Homo sapiens: one gene and its partners. The protein of the gene in region 2 purifies or fractionates together with the protein of the main gene of each other region. This does not show direct contact. Each region holds a gene or a part of one and is shown on either strand. Other genes may lie near its edges.

Region 1 (7,025 bases), on a different chromosome or scaffold from region 2:
TTTTTAGTAGACGCGGGGTTTCACTATGTCGCTCAGGCTGGTCTGGAACTCCTGGCCTCAAGCGATCCACCCACCTTGGCCTCCCAAAGTGCTGGGATTACAGGCATGGGCCACCACACCTGGCCTAACTCATGGTGGGAGACTGGAAGGAAATGAGGAAGTGAGCAGGAGGCAGTGGGATGAGCATGTTCCAAACCCTGGTGCAGGAGCATGCTTGGCATGTTAGGGGTGGCAAGGTCATGGTGGCCAGTCAGTGTGGATGTGGGTTGGGGGGAGGTGGCAGCAGATGAGAGGGGGTGGGAGTGGGGAGGACACATCAGTGTAGGTCATTGTAAGGATTTTGGCCTTTACACTGAGTGAGGGGGAAGCCGTTGGAGAGCTTTGAACAGTGAAGTTGATGATGACTTATGTTTTAAAAGGATAACTGGCTGCTGGGTTGAGAATAGACAGGAAGAGGACAAGGGCTGAGTCAGGGAGACCTTTTCAAGCTAGAGCTGTGTGACTCACACCATAATTCTTCCCTGAGTCTTCGTTTCCTCATCTGTAAAATAACTGGGCCCTCTCTAGCTCAAGAATTTTAAGTTTTCAAGTAGTGCAGGGTATTATTTCTACAGGGAGGCAAGAGGATTGCGTGGGAAGAGGTTCTGAAAGTAAATCGCTTCAGATGACCTGAAAACTTGACACCAACCTGCCTGTAGCTGAATCATCCCAAATCAAGAGGTAATCAGGTCTTTTTCAGTCAGATTGTCAGGTCATGAGAACAAAAACACTGTTTCGTAAATATTCTCTGCTCATCCCTTTTGTACTTTGCTGATCCCTGAATTTTCCCTTCCTGATTGAAAAAGGATGAAAAGCTGTTACTCATCAACAGAACTGGCAACCAGAGTAGCTTTTGTTGTTTGGAAAATTGGGAACTTTGGGGAAGGAAACAATTCTGTGTTTATCGTAGGTCATAAGAGTTTTTCTTTTATAACACGCAAGGAATCTAAAAGATTGGTTTTGTTGTAGAATTCCCTTGTCCCATTCATCTCATGTCTCACAGGTGTTCATTCTTAATGCATTGCATGTGCTTCCTTTTGTTTATGTAGGAGCTTGCAAAGTGGGAATGTTTGTTTTATGTGTATGTATCTTGATTTATAATGCTGTAATTCATTTTCCTTTATGTAGTTTGGTTTTTTTTTTTTTTTTTTTTGGAGACTTTTGAGACAAGAGTCTCACTCTGTTGCCCAGGCTGGAGTACAGTGGCGAGATCTCGGCTCACTGCAGCCTCCGCCTCCCGGGTTCAAGCCATTTCCTGCCTCAGCCTCTTGAGTAGCTGGAATTACAGTCATGCGCCACCACGCCCAGCTAATTTTTTTGTATTTTAGTAGAGACGGGGTTTCACCATGTTGGCCAGGCTGGTCTCGAACTCCTGACCTCAGGTGATCCGCCTGCCTTGGCCTCCCAAAGTACTGGGATTACAGGTATGAACCACCATGCCAGGTCTCTGAGTAGTGTTTTTAAGATCCATCCATATTGTTATGTGTCTAATTCTCTGCTTTGGAATGCTGCATTTATACCCCATGCTGTTTGCATCCATTGGTTTTGCTTTATCTGCTCTCTGTGTAGTGAGTGGTTACTCAAGTTGTTCCTACCCCCTAACACCATAAATATTGCTGCAGTGAACATCTTCCTACATGTCTCCTTACAAAGCTGTATAATATTTCTGTGGAATTGCTGGATTATAGGCTTGCAGAGACTGAATTTGATTAAATAGTGCCAGATGCCTCTCCACAGTGGCTGCCCCAGTCTCTGTGCCTCTGGAAGTATTAATATTTGAGGACTCCTGTATCCTCATGTCCCACCAGCACTCGCCTCTTTCCAGCTATCCATGGTTTTCAATCTCGTAAGCACAAAGTGATATCTTGTCGTTTTAATTTATATTTCTTTGATGACTAGAGATTTTGAGTATCTCTTATACAGATAGCTTCCTCTGTAAATTGCTTATTCATGTCTTTGGCATTTTCTGTTGGAGTTGATATCTATTTTGTTGCTGTTGACTTGCAGAAATGATTTTATAATATAGGTATTTATTCCCTGTTATGTTTAGACTTTGCAGATGTCTTCTCATTTGGGCATCTTGACATCTGTTGATCAAATCTTCTCATTTAGTTCTCGTTTTGTCTTTGCCATCCTTTGATCAAGAAATATTTTTAATTTTGATGTAATCAAATAGATAAATTCTTTGACTTGCGGTTTATGTTTTTGGAGTTTTGTTTAAGGAACTCTTCCTGAACCCTAGGTCATGTCTGTGACTTTCATCTCTCTAGGGCCCGCATTTTCATGTGTTAGATAGGAATCCAGCCCTATTTTTCTCCATTTAATGACCCAGTTTTTCTAATAACATGTCAACAAAATCCATGCTTTCCTCTATGAAATTATGGTATCTCTTTCTCATTTGTGGTTTCCATGGATACACTTGTCTGGCCCTAAGCATTTATTTTGTTCCATTAGTCTGTCAGTTCTTACTTCATTTTTTTAATTGCTCTAATTTTATTACAGTGACTTTGTAGTATGTCCTAATGACTGGCACAGCAAGCCATTCATCTTAAAGTTTATTTAGCTCTTCCTGGACCAAAATTTATTTTTTCCATATAAAATTTGGAATAAGTTTACCAGGCTACCCAAACATTATATATACATATATATTTATATATATATATTTTTTCTTTTGAGACCTTGTGTCACTCTGTTACCCAGGCTGGAGTGCAGTGGCACCATCACGGCTCACTGCAGCCTCAACCTCCCAGGCTCAAGTGATCCTCCCATTCTAGCCTCCCAAGTAGCTGAGACCACAGGCATGTGCCACCATCCCTGGCTAATTTTTCTTTTTTTTTTTTGTAATTTTTTTAGAGATAGGGACGCCCTTTGTTGTCCAGGCCGGTCTTGAACTCCCGGGCTCCAGCAATCTTCCTGCCTTGGCCTCCCAAAGTGCTTGGATTACAGGCATGAGCCACTGTGCCTGGCCAAAAAATTATATTTTTGAGGAATTTTTATTGGAGTTTATTGAGTTTATAAATTATTTGAGGAGGGTTAACATCTTATTTTATTTATTTATTTATTTTTTATGTGCCATGTTGCTTTTTTATTTTTTATTTTTCTTTTTAAGACAGGGTCTCCCTCTGTTGCCCAGGCTGGAGTACAGTGGTGCGATGATAGCTCACTGCAGCCACCACACCCAGCTAAATATTTTTATAAGTTTTTTGTTGTTGTTGTTGTTGTTTTAATAGAGATGAGGTCTCACTCTGTTGCCCTGGCTGGGCCCTGGCCAGTAACTCCTGGCCTCAAATGGTCTTCCCACCTCAAAGTGTGCTGGGATTACAAGTGTGAGCCACTGAAATAGTAACTCATTCCATCCAAGAGCATATAATGTGTCTTTCCGTTTATTCAGCTCATTTTTCTGACATTTTTATAATTTTGGAAATAATTTAAAGCTAACAGAAGAGTGCTAAGAGTATGTTTTCTTTGTGTGCTTTTTCCCCTGACCCCTTTAATTGTAGACATCATGTCCCTTTAATCTCTAAATACATGCTTCATCAGTTCTTTTTGTTTGTTTGTTTGTTTTTCTTTTGGAATGGAGTCTCGCTCTGTCGCCCAGGCTGGAGTGCAGTGGCTCGATCTCTGCTCACTGTAACCTCCGCCTCCCAGGTTCAAGCAATTCTCCTGCCTCAGCCTCCTGAGTAGCTGGGGCTACCGGTGTGTGCCACCACGCCTGGCTAATTTTTTTGTATTTTTGGTAAAGATGGGGTTTTACCATGATAGCCAGGATGGTCTCAATGTGACCTTGTGATCCACGTGCCTTGGCCTCCCAAAGTGCTGGGATTACAGGCCTGAGCCACCGTGCCCAGCCCTTTCCCATTCTTATACTTCTTATTCATTTTTCTTTCCTTACAGCATTGGCCAGGACTACTAGAACTGTGTCAAAACAGCTGCTACACTAACGGGCATCTTTGTCTTGTTCTCAGTCTTAAAAAGAGTGAGTCTAAAGATTTCCTATTTCATATAATGTTTGTTTTAGGTTTTGTATGTTACCTTTATCAAGTTTTAAGGTATTACCCTCAATCCTAGTTTACTGAGAGTTTTCATCATAAATAGGTATTAAGCCTTACCAAGTACTTTTTCAGGATCTGTCCTTGAGGAAATAAGATGGCATCAGGAAGGCTGTATACCAAAATCCTAACCCTATGCTGACTTTGTTTCAAGCAGAAGATATTTATTAACCCTACATATATAATTTGTGGAAAGCATCTCAAGATTCCAATACAAGTTTATTTCACCATTAGGTCAGCTTTTTCCTCCTGGCATTACGAGTCAGAATTTAAATAGCTGATGTGAAAAATGAGAGAAAGAGCCATACTCAGGATGATAAGTTTTGTTGTCAGCATGATTGTAAATATAAGATATGTAAAATTATAGTTTCCTTACTCTGTGGATCGGTCTTTACTTCAGGCATAAATCTTACTAAATTATATCTCAAGAAATATTGAGGTGGCTCGTCAGTAGAGCCATAGATAGCTGTTTAGCAGCACTAACTGCTAGGGTGTTGGGCAGTGAATTCTCATGGCCAGCTCTTCTCTCTCTTTCTTTTTCTTTCTTTTTAGACTAGCCATTTTTTTTCCTAATTGTGAAATTATACCTCTTTATTACAGAGCATCTGTAAAATATAGAAAAGCGAATCTATAATCCTGCCTTTTAGCACCAACCCCTGCTAAAACGTTGGTTATTTCTCTGTCTCTGTTTTTTATTGGGGTGGGGGAGCATGTTGAGGAGGAGAGGGCACTTAACATTGCACTATATCATTTTCTATCACCCCTCCTTTTTCAGGGCTAGATCATTAACTCATGTTCATTTTGCTTTGATTGGCTCTCTGGGGAAAAATCGATAGAAAACTTACAATTAACTTGTAGCAGTGGGGTGATAGCTTGCTCCTCTCTTGGAACAGTTTATGCCTGAGGGAGCCTCCGTGCACAAACAGCCCAGAGTCATTGTCAGAACTTGGAGCAATCCTAGCCCTAAGCCCAACAGACCAAAAACTAGCTTAAGGGTGTGGAGGGGAGAAGTACTTTTGAGGTCTCTTTGCTTCAGTTCAGTCCTCCCAGGTTGTCACCTTCCTTATCTAGACCACACTTGCTTTAATCTTTCAGAAAATAAATAGAATGGAGAAAATAGTCATTTATTTTCTTTTGACTCTGAAAACCTAGCACAGGCCACGTACGGTGGCTCACACCTGTAATCCCGGCACTTTGGTAGGCCAAGGCGGGCGGATCACTTGAGCTCAGGAGTTCAAGACCAGCCTGGACAACATGGCCAAACCCCATCACTACCAAAAAATACAAAAACTAGCCGGGCATGGTGGCATGTGCCTGTAGTCCTAGCGACTCAGGATGCTGAGGTGGGAGAATTGCTTGAACCTGGGAGGTGGAGGTTGCAGTGAGTTGTGCTTGCACCACTGCACTCCAGCCTGGGCAACAGAGTGAGACCCTGTCTCAAAAAAAAAAAAAAAACAACAACAACAAAACCCCATCACAATTGTTTTGTTTCCCTAATCACTTTTTGCTAGTGTGGAAGTGACAGAATTCATAGGTGAACATCCCTATGGTGAGGAGATTCAATGTCTACCTGCCTTCCTTTCTCACTCTCTATCCTTTTTTTTTTTTTTTTTTTTTTTTTTTTTTTTTTTTTTTAATGAGACGGAGTCTTGCTCTGTCCTCCAGGCTGGAGTGCAGTGGTGCCATCTCGGCTCACTGCAACCTCCACCTCCTGGGTTCAAGCAATTCTCCTGCCTTAGCCTCCCGAGTAGCTGGGATTACAGGCACGCACCACCACACCTGGCTAATTTTTGTATTCTTTAGTAGAGATGGAGTTTCCCCATGTTGGCCAGGCTGGTCTTGAACTCCTCCCTCGTGATCTGCCCGCCTCGGCCTCCCAAAGTGCTGGGATTACAGGCGTGAGCCACCGTGCCCGGCTCTTTTTTCCCCCAGTGTCCTTTGGTGTTGAAACTGAAATTCCCCATTCCTGTACCCTGCTGGGTTTTTTTTTTTTTTTTTTTTTTTTTTTTGCCATAACAGGTGTCACTTTCTAAAACACAATGGTCTGCCTTCCCAATTCCTCAAGGAGAAAATTCTTCAAGGGCAGGAATCTTTGTTTTGTTCCCTGTTCATAACCCAAGCCCACCTCGAACAGTGCCTGGTACCTGATGTGCCCTCAACAGATGAATCTATAAGATGAATCAACCTGTAAAGAAGCCACACTGTGATCCAGAGAAGGGTCATCTAAGGGAGGGGTGAGAGAAGAAAGCTCTCTTAGCTTCCTTTCAATGCATAGGTTCAGCAGGCTAGTAGAATCCCCATTTTTGTCTTTGACATTGCAAATGAAACCATCCACCCAGACACAGAGAAATTAGCTCTCTGCATCTGTTCTAGCCCCTCCTGCGGAGGCTGCATTTTCCCGAAAGTAGCATGTGAATGTTTGTGTTGCTGACAAACACATGGACTGGGAGAGAATAATCAGCACTGACATTCTAGCTGTGGGTCTGGGCCCAGAGTGCATTCTGCATTGTTTTCATGAGGTGATTCTCTTAGGATAAATGAGCCTGCCCCATCAGCAGAAAATGTTGCAATGGATGTGCCGAGTTATGCTTACCTCCCCAGCCTCACACCCCAGGTCCTCCTGCTTTCTAGTTGGTTCTTTCCTCCCCTCCCCTGCAATGTGGAAACTTTTTAGCTTTTCTGTCATTTCCGAACAATAAGTATTCTGAACGGTAAGTATTCTAATCTGGTTCAGAATTGTTACGATGAACAGTTATGCCTTGCATACCTGGTCACTGTTTTCTAAAGCAAGTCTTCAAATTATATTAATAGCACTATATAAAATGCTAAAAAATTAAAAAGCTGCCACAAATACACCATAATGGTGTTCTTGAGGCCAGTGTCACACACCCAGTCTATCCTGTAGAGGCCATTGCTTGGCTCATATTCCTGAAATAC
Region 2 (5,865 bases):
CCAGCCTGGGCAACAGAGTGAGACTCCATCTGAAAAAAAAAAAAGAAAAAAAAGAAAGAAAAGAAAATGAAGATATTACTGTGCCAATGATATGAGTCAGTATTTGTAAAGTGGTTAGAACAGTTCCTGGCAGTTTGTGCTTTATAAATGTTAGTTCTAATGGGGAAATGGGGGCACAGAGAGGTTATGTGACCTGCCCCAAAGCCACACAGCTTATGAGCAGGGATTTGCCACCAGGTCAGTCTCTGACTGCCAAGCTGTGCTCTTTCTGTTCCCAGAGCTAGCCTGTACATTGAAGGTAGACAGCAGTGTAGCCTCTGCCCAGTGGAAGCCCCTCAATCCACACGGACCTCATCTGTGGCCTTCCATTTCTTATTCCTTAGAAGTTCCACCTGGTGCCAAGCATCAACACCATGAGTGGCAGTCAGGAGCTGCAGTGGATGGTACAGCCTCATTTCCTGGGGCCCAGCAGTTACCCCAGGCCTCTGACCTACCCTCAGTACAGCCCCCCACAACCCCGGCCAGGAGTCATCCGGGCCCTGGGGCCGCCTCCAGGGGTACGTCGAAGGCCTTGTGAACAGGTAAGGCACAGAGGCATTGCAGTGGTTCCGACCCCGCCCAGGAGTGCTAGGGTGCAGAGAAGCTCCTGCCAGAAAGGAGAGCACAGGCTTAGGAGGGGGTAAGGTAGGCTACAGGTGACTACTGCCCAAGGCTGAAAGTGATAGGAGCCCCACGGGAGGCCCAGAGGGTACAACAGTCACTTCCAGATCAGGGAAAGCTTCCTGGAAAAGGTGGCATATTAGCCTAGAAGGATGGGTAGGACTGGCAGAGGCAGAGAGGAAGGAAAGGACATTCCAGGTAGCGGGGGTGGCAGGAGCAAGGATGGAGGCGGAGGCAAGAACATGTAAGGTGCGCACACGGAATGGTGAGGGGGTCTCCACCTGCTGACATGCATAGAGGGGGCGCTTATGTTGTCTGGGAGAGAACAGGAACAAGAGGGTTCCCTTCAGCTACTCCCTCAGTCTCAGTTTCCCTGTCTCATTTAATCCTCACAAAATCTCTCTGGGGAATGTACTCTGGTTTTCCCCATCTTCCACCAAAGAAATGAAGGCACAGAAGGGTAGTCACTTGCCCAAGATCACACAAGTAGTGAGTAATGACACAGGACTGGCCTTGGCCCCAGGTCTATACAACTCTAAAGTCAGATCCTAACCACCAAACCAGGGCCAGGTGCAGTAGCTCATGCCTGTAATCCCAGCACTTTGAGAGACCTAGGCAGGAGGATCACTTGAGGCCAGGAGTTCAAGACTAGGTTGGGCAACATAGAGAGACCCTGTCTCTACCGAAAAAACAAAATAAAATAAAACCCCCAAAACTAATCACCAAGCCACGCTGTCTCACTGGAAGCTAACAGAAGGCTCAAAGTAGAGGGAACTGACAATTCTTGGCTCCCCAAAGCCCTTACCAAAATAAGTGAGTAAGAGATGGCGAGTCTTTAAAGGAGTGGCTCATCTTTCCTCTCCCTGGGGCATTTTGGTGTGGGAGACTACAGGGGATGAGGTTAAAAAGCTTGGTCGGCAGGTAGAGGATGGGGAGAGAGGTTAGGGCCCTGGGAAAGGTGAGAGATCAGCCAGAGACAGGTTTCCCAGAACAGAATGTCTGGCCTTTGTGGTGAGGAGGGACTGTGGTATGAGCCGCAGAAGCGGGCCAGGGGTAAACCCTCCTGTGCGTCCTTCCTTCAGCCTGGTCCTGAGGGTGACCCTTTGATCCTGGGTTCTCCAGGTAGGGCTGTGAGCTGTGAGTTGGATCCTTTTGGTGAAATGGTCTCTCTCATCTGGCCTGTCACTCAATGTGGAATAGAGTGAGTGAGTTCTATGGGTTCTAAGTCCTGCTCTGGAACCATAAGTAAGTTATCCTCTCTGGGCTTCAGTTTTTCATGGAAAGTTGCGTTAAGAATCTAGTTTAAGGCCAGGCATGGTGGCTCACGCCTGTAATCCCAGCACTTTGGGAGGCCAAGGAAGGTGGATCATGAGGTCAGGAGATCGAGACCATCCTGGCTAACATGATGAAACCGTGTCTCTACTAAAAAATACAAAAAATTAGCTGGGCGTGGTGGAAGGCACCTGTAGTCGCAGCTACTCGGGAGGCTGAGGCAGGAGAATGGCGTGAACCCCGGAGGCGGAGCTTGCAGTGAGCCGAGATGGCACCACTGCACTCCAGCCTGGGCAACAGAGTGAGACTCCGTCTCAAAAAAAAAAAAAAAAAAGAATCTATGTTTTTTTAAAAAAGAGGCCAGCTGTGGTGACTCCCCCTGGTAATCCAAACATTCTAGGAGGCCAGTGCAGGAGGATCCCTTGAGCCCATGAGTTCCAGACCAGCCTGGGCAACACAGTGAGACCCCGTCACTACACAAAAAAAAAAAAGAAAAAAAAAGGCCGAGCACAGTGGCTCATGCCTGTAATCCCAGCACTTTGGGAGGCTGAGGAGGGTGGATCACCTGAGGTTAAGAGTTCAAGACCAGCCTGGCCAACATGGTGAAACCTCGTCTCTACTAAAAATACAAAAATTAGCCAGGTGTGGTGGTACATGCCTGTAATCCCAGCTACTTGGGAGGCTGAGGCACGAGAATCACTTGAACCCAGTAGGTGGAGGTTGCAGTGAGCCAAGATTGGGCCAATGCACTCCAGCCTGGGAAAGAGTGAGACTCTGTCTAAAAAAAATAAAATAAAATAAAATAAAATCTTTGCATGTTCTCAGTGAAAAACAAGAATCTACGTAAAGTACTTGGCTGGCACATAGTAGTTTTCCAATAAATTGCAACTTAATCAGCAGCACTCATTAGCCCCTCCTAGTGCTTACAGCTCATGGAAGAGGAGACTTGGTTGTCCACAGATCCAGAAGGATGAGGGTCCTGCAAAGAGGGTGCTGAGAAGGAAAGGTCACTTCTGGCTGGGGAATAAGACGGCTTCCTGGAGGCAGGAGCATCTTAGTTGAGTCCTGGGAGATGAGGAGGGTTAGGGTTTGCGGAGGGGGAGGGCATTATGGGAGAGGAATGTGCACTAAAGCTAGGTGCGAGGAGGAAATTTTACCAATCAAAGCAGACAGCGCCTCAGTGCAGGGAACTGGTTGGGTGCAGTGATCCCTAAATCACCGGCTGAGGGGGCCCTGCCATGACCTCTGCCAGGGTCCTACCACTGGGCCACCATGAGGGGCGAGTTCCAGGCAGCCAGTAGCCCAGGGTCCTCCTCACTGCGGGTCTCACCCCCAGATCAGCCCGGAGGAAGAGGAGCGCCGCCGAGTAAGGCGCGAGCGGAACAAGCTGGCTGCGGCCAAGTGCAGGAACCGGAGGAAGGAACTGACCGACTTCCTGCAGGCGGTGAGCACCAGCCCTGGTCCACCGAGCTCAGAGGGACCCTGTCTCCCAGAGCCCCCAGAGCCCCAGTATATGTAGCCCCCTCCTCACCATCCTAGCTCCTTGTCTGAGGGGCAGTCCTTCTGGGAAAATGATGAGGAAAAATTGATTAGAAACTGGCTGCAGCATGTCTCACTCACAGCAGAGCTGAAGCTCAGCCAGCAATCTCCTTTTTTTTTTGAGACAGAGTCTCGCTCTGTCACCCAGGCTGGAGTGCAGTGATGAGATCTCGGCTCATGGCTCACTGTGACATCTGTCTCCCAGGCTCCAGCAATTCTTATGCCTCAGCCTGCTGAGTACCTGGGGCTACAGGCGCCTGCCTCCCTACCCGACTAATTTTTGTATTTTTAGTAGAGACGGGGTTTCGCCAAGTTAGCCAGGCTGGTCTCAAACTCCTGGTCTCAAGTGATCCGCCCGCCTCAGCCTCCCAAAGTGCTGGGATTACAGGCCGGAGTCACTGCCTGGTGCCAGCAATCTCCTAAAACGTCTGGGCCTGATGGGAGTTGTGCCCATTTTCTCCCAGGGGCTTATGGGAGTTGTAGTCCAGACTTGCTGGGGACTCTCCACTGCCCCCCCTCTCCCCCCGCCCAACCCCAGCTCCTCAGAACCCTGAGTCCAAACGTCTGCGGCTCTGGGGTATTCAGCCCTCACCTTTCTGACTCCTCTCCTGATCTTCTACAGGAGACTGACAAACTGGAAGATGAGAAATCTGGGCTGCAGCGAGAGATTGAGGAGCTGCAGAAGCAGAAGGAGCGCCTAGAGCTGGTGCTGGAAGCCCACCGACCCATCTGCAAAATCCCGGAAGGAGCCAAGGAGGGGGACACAGGCAGTACCAGTGGCACCAGCAGCCCACCAGCCCCCTGCCGCCCTGTACCTTGTATCTCCCTTTCCCCAGGGCCTGTGCTTGAACCTGAGGCACTGCACACCCCCACACTCATGACCACACCCTCCCTAACTCCTTTCACCCCCAGCCTGGTCTTCACCTACCCCAGCACTCCTGAGCCTTGTGCCTCAGCTCATCGCAAGAGTAGCAGCAGCAGCGGAGACCCATCCTCTGACCCCCTTGGCTCTCCAACCCTCCTCGCTTTGTGAGGCGCCTGAGCCCTACTCCCTGCAGATGCCACCCTAGCCAATGTCTCCTCCCCTTCCCCCACCGGTCCAGCTGGCCTGGACAGTATCCCACATCCAACTCCAGCAACTTCTTCTCCATCCCTCTAATGAGACTGACCATATTGTGCTTCACAGTAGAGCCAGCTTGGGGCCACCAAAGCTGCCCACTGTTTCTCTTGAGCTGGCCTCTCTAGCACAATTTGCACTAAATCAGAGACAAAATATTTCCCATTTGTGCCAGAGGAATCCTGGCAGCCCAGAGACTTTGTAGATCCTTAGAGGTCCTCTGGAGCCCTAACCCCTTCCAGATCACTGCCACACTCTCCATCACCCTCTTCCTGTGATCCACCCAACCCTATCTCCTGACAGAAGGTGCCACTTTACCCACCTAGAACACTAACTCACCAGCCCCACTGCCAGCAGCAGCAGGTGATTGGACCAGGCCATTCTGCCGCCCCCTCCTGAACCGCACAGCTCAGGAGGCGCCCTTGGCTTCTGTGATGAGCTGATCTGCGGATCTCAGCTTTGAGAAGCCTTCAGCTCCAGGGAATCCAAGCCTCCACAGCGAGGGCAGCTGCTATTTATTTTCCTAAAGAGAGTATTTTTATACAAACCTACCAAAATGGAATAAAAGGCTTGAAGCTGTGGCCTGAGTGCCTCACTGGACCCAGAGGCCAATGGGAGAGTATTTGGAGCCCTAGGTCCCAGCCTTAGCTCTACAGACTCACTGCATGACCTTGGACAAATTCTTTGATATTTTTGGACTTTGTCTTATCTGACAAGTGGGGCTACATCCGCTCGGCCTCATCTCCGGGACTGAGGGGAGACAGTCCTCTGGGGTAAAAGCGAAGAGGCTTACCGCCCCTCTCCCCGTGGGGGCCCACAGTGCTGCTGCGTGTGCCACGGAGGGGCGCTGTTATGCCCCCTTCCAGCCTCAGAGGAGGCGGCCGAGTGGTTCTAGGCCCCCAGCACCTGCTTCCTGCCCCATTGTCTTGGACAGGAAGGAGCCGGGAAGGGAGCTGGAGCCACTTCAGGGGCTGGATTAAGGCCGGTCCCGGCGCCCGATGGGGGAAGTCTGGTTTACCACTGCCCCGCATCCCACCCCAGGCTCGAAGTAATGGGGGAATCATTAGTTCTGCAGTCCTTCTGGATGGGAATTGTACCCTGTATCAGCACCCCACCCTCGCCCCAACCCCGGCGAGTACCAAACAGACGCTGCCCAGGCCGTGGGCTCCGCTTCCGTCCGGGTTTATTACCCCCAATCCAACCCCCAGCAAGTCCCTCCGCTCCAGCCTTCAGTCCCCCTGCTGCCCTGCCAGCAAGAGCGAGGGGCCCTTCTTGGT
Region 3 (7,548 bases), on a different chromosome or scaffold from region 2:
GAGGCCAGGCATGGTGGCTTATATCTGTAATCCTAGCACCTTGAGAGGCCAAGGCAGGAGAGCAAAAAAAAAAAAAAAAAAATTAGCCAGGCATGGTGGCATGCACCTGTAGTCCTAGCTACTCAGGATGCTGAGGTGGGAGGATCATTTGAGCCCAGAAGTTGGAGGTTACAGTGAGCTATGATTGCACCACTCTAGCCTAAGTGACAAAGTGAGACCCGTCTCAAAAAAGAAAATAAAAAATATGAGTAAGTTTAACAAGAGAAACACAAGATTTGTACAATGAAAACCACAAAACACAGCTTGGCACAGTGGCTTATGCCTGTAACCCTATCACGTTGGGAGGCCAAGGTGGGAGAACTGCTTGAGACCAAGAGTTTGACACCAGCCTAGGCAACAAAGCGGGACCCTGTCTCTAACTTAAAAAACAAAATAAGTCCAGGTGAGGTGGCTCACACCTGTAATCCCAGCACTTTGGGAGGCCAAGGTGGGTGGATCTAACCCCATTAGAGATGGGGTTTCACCATGTTGCCCAGGAGTTTGAGACCAGCCTGGGCAACATGGTGAAATCCCGTCTCTAAAAAAATTTAAAAATCAAAAAAATACAAAATAAAAAACAAAGTAAACCTACAAAAAATACAGTTGAAAGACATTAAGAAGCTTTAAATAAATGTTAAGACATTCGATGTCCGTGGATTGGAATACGATATTGTTAAGATGGCAATACTCCTTGATCTACAGATTCAAGGGAATTCCTATTAAAATCCTAGATGGCTTTTTTGTGGAAATTGACAAGCTGACCCTAAAATTCATGTGGCAATGTAAGGGACCCAGTATATCCAAAGCAATCTCGAAAAAAGAGAACGAAATTGGAGGATTCATACTTCCTAATTTCAAAACTTACTACAAAGCTAAAATTATCAAGCCTTTTGATACTGGCATAAGGACAGACATATAGAAGAACGAAATAACATTGAAAGTCCAGAAGTAAACCAATATATTTAAGGTCCAATGAGTTTTGGCAAGGGTGCCAAGAGGATTGAATGAGGGAAATAATATCTTTTCCAACAAATGGTGCTGGGACAATTGTGCATGGAAAAGAACGAAATTGGACCTCTACCTCATACCATATACAAAATTATCTCATAATGAATCAAAGACCTAAATGTAGGAGCTAAAAACAACAAAATTCTTAGAAGAAAGCACACGTGTAAATCTTTATGATACTGTATTAGGCAATGGTTTATTAGATATAGATATGACACCAACAGCACAAACAAGATAAATTGGACTTTATCAAAATATAAAACTTTTGAGCTTCAGGCCGGGCGCGGTGGCTCATGCCTGTAATCCCAGCACTTTGGGAGGCCGTGGTGGGCGGATCATGAGGTCAGGAGATCGAGACCATCCTAGCTAACACGGTGAAACCCCGTCTCTACTAAAAATACAAAAAAATTAGCTGGGCGTGGTGGCGTGTGCCTGTAGTCCCAGCTACTCCGGAGGCTGAGGCAGGAGAATGGCATGAACCCGGAAGGTGGAGCTTGCAGTGAGCCGAGATTGCGTTACCGCACTCCAGCCTGGGCAACTCAAAAAAAAAAAAAAAACTTTTGAGCTTCAAAGGACACTATCAGAAAGTGAAAAGACAACTAACCTGCAGAATGAGATAAAATATCTGCAAATCATATATCTGATAAGCATCTAGTATCTAGAATATATAAAGAATTCTTATAACTCAACAATAAAGAGGCCGGGCCTCTTTACATGCCTGTAATCCCAACACTTTGAGGGGCCAAGGTGGGAGGATCACTGGAGTCCAGGAGTTTAAGACCAGCCTGACCTAGTGTCTACAGACATTTTTTTTTTTTTGAGTCACAGTCTCACTCTGTCACCCAGGCTGGAGTGCAATGGCATGATCTCAGCTCACTGCAACCTCCGCCTCCCGGGTTCAAGCAATTCTCCTGCCTCAGCCTCCCAAGTAGCTGGGATTACAGATGCCCACCACCATACCCAGCGAATTTTTGTATTTTTAGTAGAGACAGGATTGCCATGTTGGCCAAGCTGGTCTTGAACTCCTGACCTCGTGGTCCACCTGCCTCAGCCTCCCAAAGTGCTGGGATTACAGGTGTGAGCCACCGCACCCGGCCTGGAAAATTTTAAAAAATCATCTGGACATGGTAGCATGTACCTGTAGTCCTGGCTACTTGGGGTGCTGAGTTGGGAGGATTGCTTGAGTCTGGGAGGTCGAGGATGCAGTCAGCAGTGATCATGCCACTGCACTCCAACCTGGGCAACAAAGGGAGACCCTGCCAAAAAAAAAAAAAAAAAAAGGCCGGGCGCAGTGGCTCATGCCTGTAATCCCAGCTCTTTGGGAGGCCAAGCCGGGCAGATCACAAGGTCAAGAGATTGAGACCATCCTGGCCAACATGGTGAAACCCCGTCTCTACTAAAAATACAAAAATTTGCTGGGTGTGGTGGCGTGCGCCTGTAGTCCCAGCTACTCGGGAGGCTGAGGCAGGGGAATCGCTTGAACCCAGGAGGTGGAGGTTGCAGTGAGCTGAGATCGTGCCACTGCACTCCAGCCTGGTGACAGATCAAGACTCCGTCTCAAAAAACAAAAACAAACAAACAAACAAAAAACATCAATTTAGAATAGTACCTGGAACATAGTAAAATCTATAAATATTAGCTATTGCATGTATACAGCGATAGCCAATTGTTCCACCACGATTTGTAGAATCCTTTTCCCTCTGATTTTATTTTTATTTATTTATTTATTTATTTATTTATTTATTTATTTTGACACGGAGTTTCGCTGTTGTTGCCCAGGCTGGAGTGCAATGGCGGGATCTTGGCTCACTGCAACCTCCGCTTTCCAGGTTCAAGTGATTCTCTTGCCTCGGCCTCCTGAGTAGCTGGGATTTACAGGCGTGAGCCACTGCGCCCGGCCAACATACAAATTTTTCTTATATATTTAAGGTATGTTTCCATCACTGTATTCTTTTAAGTAGGAATTGTTTTAGGGGAGAATAGTTTGGAAGCCAAGACTCCTCTCAACTTTTCTCAATTCACTACATAAGAAAGAAAGATTTTACATCTGTTTCATTTTAGGTATCTAGGGAGAAATCACCCAGATTCTTCCTACCTCTCAGAGGGTGCTGTGAGGATAGATGAGATGCTAGACAGAAAGTTCAGAAAGCTGAGTAACATAAAGCTGCAAAAGGAGAGAACAGAGATTCCATAGATAATATTTTAAGTCAACTACAATTCGTTAAATTTTAAGAAAATTATTTATTTTATTTATTTATCGAGACAGGGTTTCACTCTGTTGTCCAGGCTGGAGTGCAGTGGCCTGATGTGGGCTCACTGCCACCTCAACCTCCTGGGCTCAAGCGATCTTCCCACTTAGCCCCCCGAATAGCTACTACAGGTGCAGGCCACCATGCCCGGCTAATTTTATATTTTTTCGTAGAGCTGAGTTTTCGCCATGTTGCCCAGGCTGGTCTCAAATTCCTGGGCTCAGGCGATCCTCTTGCCTCGGCCTAGCAGTGTTGGGATTACAGACGTGAGCCACTGCACCCAGCCTGTTTTTTGTTTTTCTTTTTTCTTTTCCTGGTTTGTCTTGAACAAGACATATAAATGTAAGACTATAGACTTTGCATTTGATATTTCCCCCGAAATCTTCCCAGGTCATAATTCAACTCCTGGTGTGTTACTTCCTCAAAGAGGTCTTCTCTCAAACACTAGGAGTAAAGCTTCTTCCCCACTCCTAGTCACCTTCTGTCTCACTATCCTGAAGCGCTTTTCACTATTTGAAATATTTGTGTTTATTGGCTTTTTAACTGTCTCCCCTTCCTCACTCAAATATAAATTCTACCTGGGTTGGTAACTCCTTAACCCCATGCTTAGAACAATGCTTTGCACGGGGGGTATAGCTCAGGGATAGAGCATTCGACTGCAGAACAATGCTTTGCATGTAGTATGCCCTACGTTTTGTGAAAATATTTGCTGAATAATATAGTGATTTTAAAAAATCCCCAAGCAGTTTCATGTATCTCATTTGATCATTACAACTATTTGAATAAAATGAGATTGTTAGTCCCATTGTACAGAGACTCAGAGAAGGTTTTCACCCAAGGCAATAGGGCTAGTAAAATGGTAGTGTTAGAATTGCTGTGCGGGTGGATTGCTTTGTCCGTACATGGACTTCATTTCTAGCGCTAAGGGTATTTTAAATTACTTTGCCGTTAAGGAAGCGATGACTCTGAAAGATAGTAGTAACCACCACTACAGGCACCTGTAAAGATCCTCTCTCCTTTTTCCTTTCTTTCTCCCGCTAGATTCTGCAGCCGAACACGTGTGACCTGTGTGGACAGTACTCGCTCAGTCTCCCTCCCCAGCCCTGCCCACAGTAAGCCCGGCCCCTTCTTTTCCCGGAGCCCCCGCCTCTCGGCCGCTTTCCAACTCAGCCCCCACGGATCTCGCCCTTCCCCCGCGGACCCATGACTTCTCGCGAGAGTTGAGCGCGCCTGGCCGGACGGGAGGAAAGTATCCGTTCCGCCAAGGGGGGAAAGGAGGAGCTGGAGACAGATTGTAGGACCGAGCGCGGGCAGGCGGGAGGCAACGGAGCTACCAGCCGGTAAGTCCTTTTAACATTAGCTAGTCCATGATCTGACGGGAGTCTCCCTTTCAACTCTGGCCAGTCCCAGCGTTCCAGGCTGGGGTCTCCCCTCCCAGTCTGTGTTGGACGGGGGCGCTGAGGCGGTGGCCGGGCCCTGTCTGAGGAAGAGGGTGGGGCATAGGCCAAAGCCGACCAATGGGAGAGAAGGAAGCCTCGATTGGCGGCGATGAGCGCTAATGGGAGATCGCTTTTACGTTGCCGAGCGCCGCCCTTCTCTCCCTACTCCCGCCTCCTTCCTTTGGGGGGAAGGCGGGGCCAGAGGCTTGAAGTGTGGGGAGAACTTGGTGTAAGTAGCCCCGGGGGGCACAGGGCGTGGCAAGGAGAGGGGAATTGAATCCTGAGGGAAGGGTAGTCTAGTGGAGCCTAATGGAAGGATCATGGGATGGGGTGGAATGGGAGAAAGAGGAGGGATACTAAACTAAGTTAGAAACCCAGGGCTTCCCAAAGAGTGGGATTAGGAGCTTGGAATTGGAAAAGGGTAATAGGAAGGAGGTAGGAATGAGTAGATGAGAACAAAGATCTTGATCTGGTGACACAACACCCCGTTGGGTTTGGCAGAAAAGATAGATGGGGTGGATTATTGGAAATGAGGGTCATGGCATTTTGATTGAATTAATTAAAAGAACATCAGGGACATGATATCAGAGAGAAAGTATGGATTTGGAGAAAATTAAGTGAATTAATTTAAGAGGACAGTATGGGTGAGCTGAGTCGCCATAAGGCATGGCTTCTGGAAGGATATGAGCCTTGAGAGCGATAAGAGGTGTTTGGGAAGGAGATGGCTGATATACACATGTCTTTAGCCTAGGTATCAGGTGGTTGGGATATTGATTTAGGGCTTCTGGTGGATATGGCACCCAGACTGGTGACCAGCCTCCAAGATGCTGGGATGGGGGTTGAGAAGGAGAAAAATAGAACGCTTTCATCGCTTCTCTGATTTTCCTTCTCCCTCTCTTCTATTACCCAAACTCTTCCCAGACACCAGGATGTGGTCTTGGGACTTAAGCAGTCCAAGTTGGAGCCCCATAGGGACTTAATATGTTGCTCTGAATTGCTTGTTATGTTCTCTGACTGGGGTGTTTACAACCCAGGGCACCTCCTACCCAGATTCCCGCGTTGCTACTTTCCTAACTTTAAAAGTTTGTTTTCTGCTTAACAGAGGGTGTTTTAGTATCTCTGAGGGTCATGTCATATTAAGTACAGGTGTGTAGGGGGTGTGCAGAGTTTTCTCAGCAAGCTCACATGAGTCCTGTGTTTAAAAATTTTGCAGTAGTGTAATTCTTGTAGCGATATCAGTCTTTATGGGCATTCTAAGCAGAAATATACTAAAATGAAGTTTGTTTTGTTAAATGTGGCTTCCCCAGTCATTCTCGAAGAGTTGTCGAATGGGTGGTTGCAGTTTGTTTTAGTTAACTTACATAATGTGTTTTTAAATAGTGTAAATAAAATAGACATGTTATTTCAGGAAAGTGAAAAATGTTCAGTTTTTTCCTTTGTGTCCAGACTCAGAAACTAAAGCTATGTCATAATATCTTAGGCCAAGGGCTGGGGAAATCAAACACAATTTGTACTTACACATGGAAGTTGTAAGGTAAGTGGAGGCTCTTGCGAAATGTAACATGTCTGTAAGAAAAGAAGCTAAAGAAAAGTTTGCAAGCTCTGCTAAGTAGTCTTACCAGTTCTTAATTCTGTACAGAAAAGGGACAGGGCTTTGCCCTTTGTTTGATAGTTGTGTATCATTTAATAACGAATTGGACTAATATAGCCAATTAATAACTTCTTTGCTCTTGCGTAGATTTTGCTTTTACATTCCTTCTCTTCTCCTTTTACTTTTGAGAAGGGAAATAATGTCTGAAATATCAGTAAAGCTATTACATGAAGAGAAACCAGAGTACGTAGTTGTATTAACCTTTGGTTTTCTGCAATCAGCTGAAGCCTTTCTCCCTGGCCAAGAAGTTGCCCCTATAGCACATTGAGACCAATTCATTGCTGACCCGTTAGCATTAACTACTGAGCTGGGTTCTAGTATTTCACAGTAAGTGCATTGCTATTGGACATTCAGAACATTTCCAGTTTGCCTGGCAGCAGTACAGAAAATTACCCAGTGAGAGAGCAGAGTCCCTTGTTTTGGTCTTCTGCCCTAGAATTGGTGATTGCTTTGACTAGGGCACTATTAAACCCAAGATTTTTTTTTTCTCACTAGTGCTACCATCTAGCAGAAAGCTAGAGTGATAACACTGCTCATCTTTCAACTTGTGGATCAAAGTTTACACCCTGTGGTAGTTTCAGTGTTGTAATTTTTAAACACGTTTGTTTACCACGGTTTTAAAATGTTAATAGCTCTACTTACTGTATCTTGTTCTCTTTCCTTTCCTCATTTCCAACCCAAAATGAAAATTGTTTTTTCAACCAACTCTTAAACTACTTCTTTGCCTGGAGTAAAGTCACTGGCTCTGTCTGAACACAGCTGCTCTGAAGTTCTCAGAAGTTATTGTTTTGTGCATGTCAAGACCGAGTTTTTCCTAGGCTACAGTGGGAGGGAGTTAGTGTTACAGCAGCCTCCTATCCACGTCTGATAAGGAGGAGCCTTCTCCTTGCAAGGAAGTTTTAGGTGGAACAGATAGAACTCCACGTAAATGTCTAATAAAGCTAGCTCTTTTCTTGAGACTAGTTAGCATACTGGTATATAATTGTCCCTTATCCCTTAATAAAAGTACTAAAGTTAAGGTACAGGTGTTTCTTTGAGAAAAACAAATGCAGCATTCATTTAAAAGGAAAAAGCATTCATTTCTTTTGTTGTTGGTTTCTCAGAAAATGGTCCTACGATTTTGGAGTTCATGAAAAAGTCTTCTGTCTCTTTAAAAATATGT

The links. The genes of interacting proteins can lie anywhere in the genome.
Region 1: the proteins of FOSL1 (region 2) and DNMBP purify together in Homo sapiens (co-immunoprecipitation; 2 studies listed by BioGRID and IntAct, with this or other methods). This does not show direct contact.
Region 3: the proteins of FOSL1 (region 2) and ATF7 purify together in Homo sapiens (co-immunoprecipitation; 2 studies listed by BioGRID and IntAct, with this or other methods). This does not show direct contact.

What each region holds. Positions count from the first base shown.
Region 1 is NC_000010.11:99,999,932-100,006,956, reverse strand, and holds part of DNMBP (dynamin-binding protein), read left to right. Parts: exon of another isoform or gene 1-720; intron 721-3,933; exon of another isoform or gene 3,934-4,015; intron 4,016-7,025. UniProt on the Homo sapiens protein: Plays a critical role as a guanine nucleotide exchange factor (GEF) for CDC42 in several intracellular processes associated with the actin and microtubule cytoskeleton.
Region 2 is NC_000011.10:65,891,525-65,897,389, reverse strand, and holds the end of FOSL1 (fos-related antigen 1), read left to right. Parts: intron 1-383; coding exon 384-581; intron 582-3,268; coding exon 3,269-3,376; intron 3,377-4,093; coding exon 4,094-4,504; 3' UTR 4,505-5,341; downstream 5,342-5,865.
Region 3 is NC_000012.12:53,623,367-53,630,914, reverse strand, and holds the start of ATF7 (cyclic AMP-dependent transcription factor ATF-7), read left to right. Parts: upstream 1-4,532; 5' UTR 4,533-4,636; intron 4,637-4,918; exon of another isoform or gene 4,919-6,269; intron 6,270-7,548. UniProt on the Homo sapiens protein: Stress-responsive chromatin regulator that plays a role in various biological processes including innate immunological memory, adipocyte differentiation or telomerase regulation.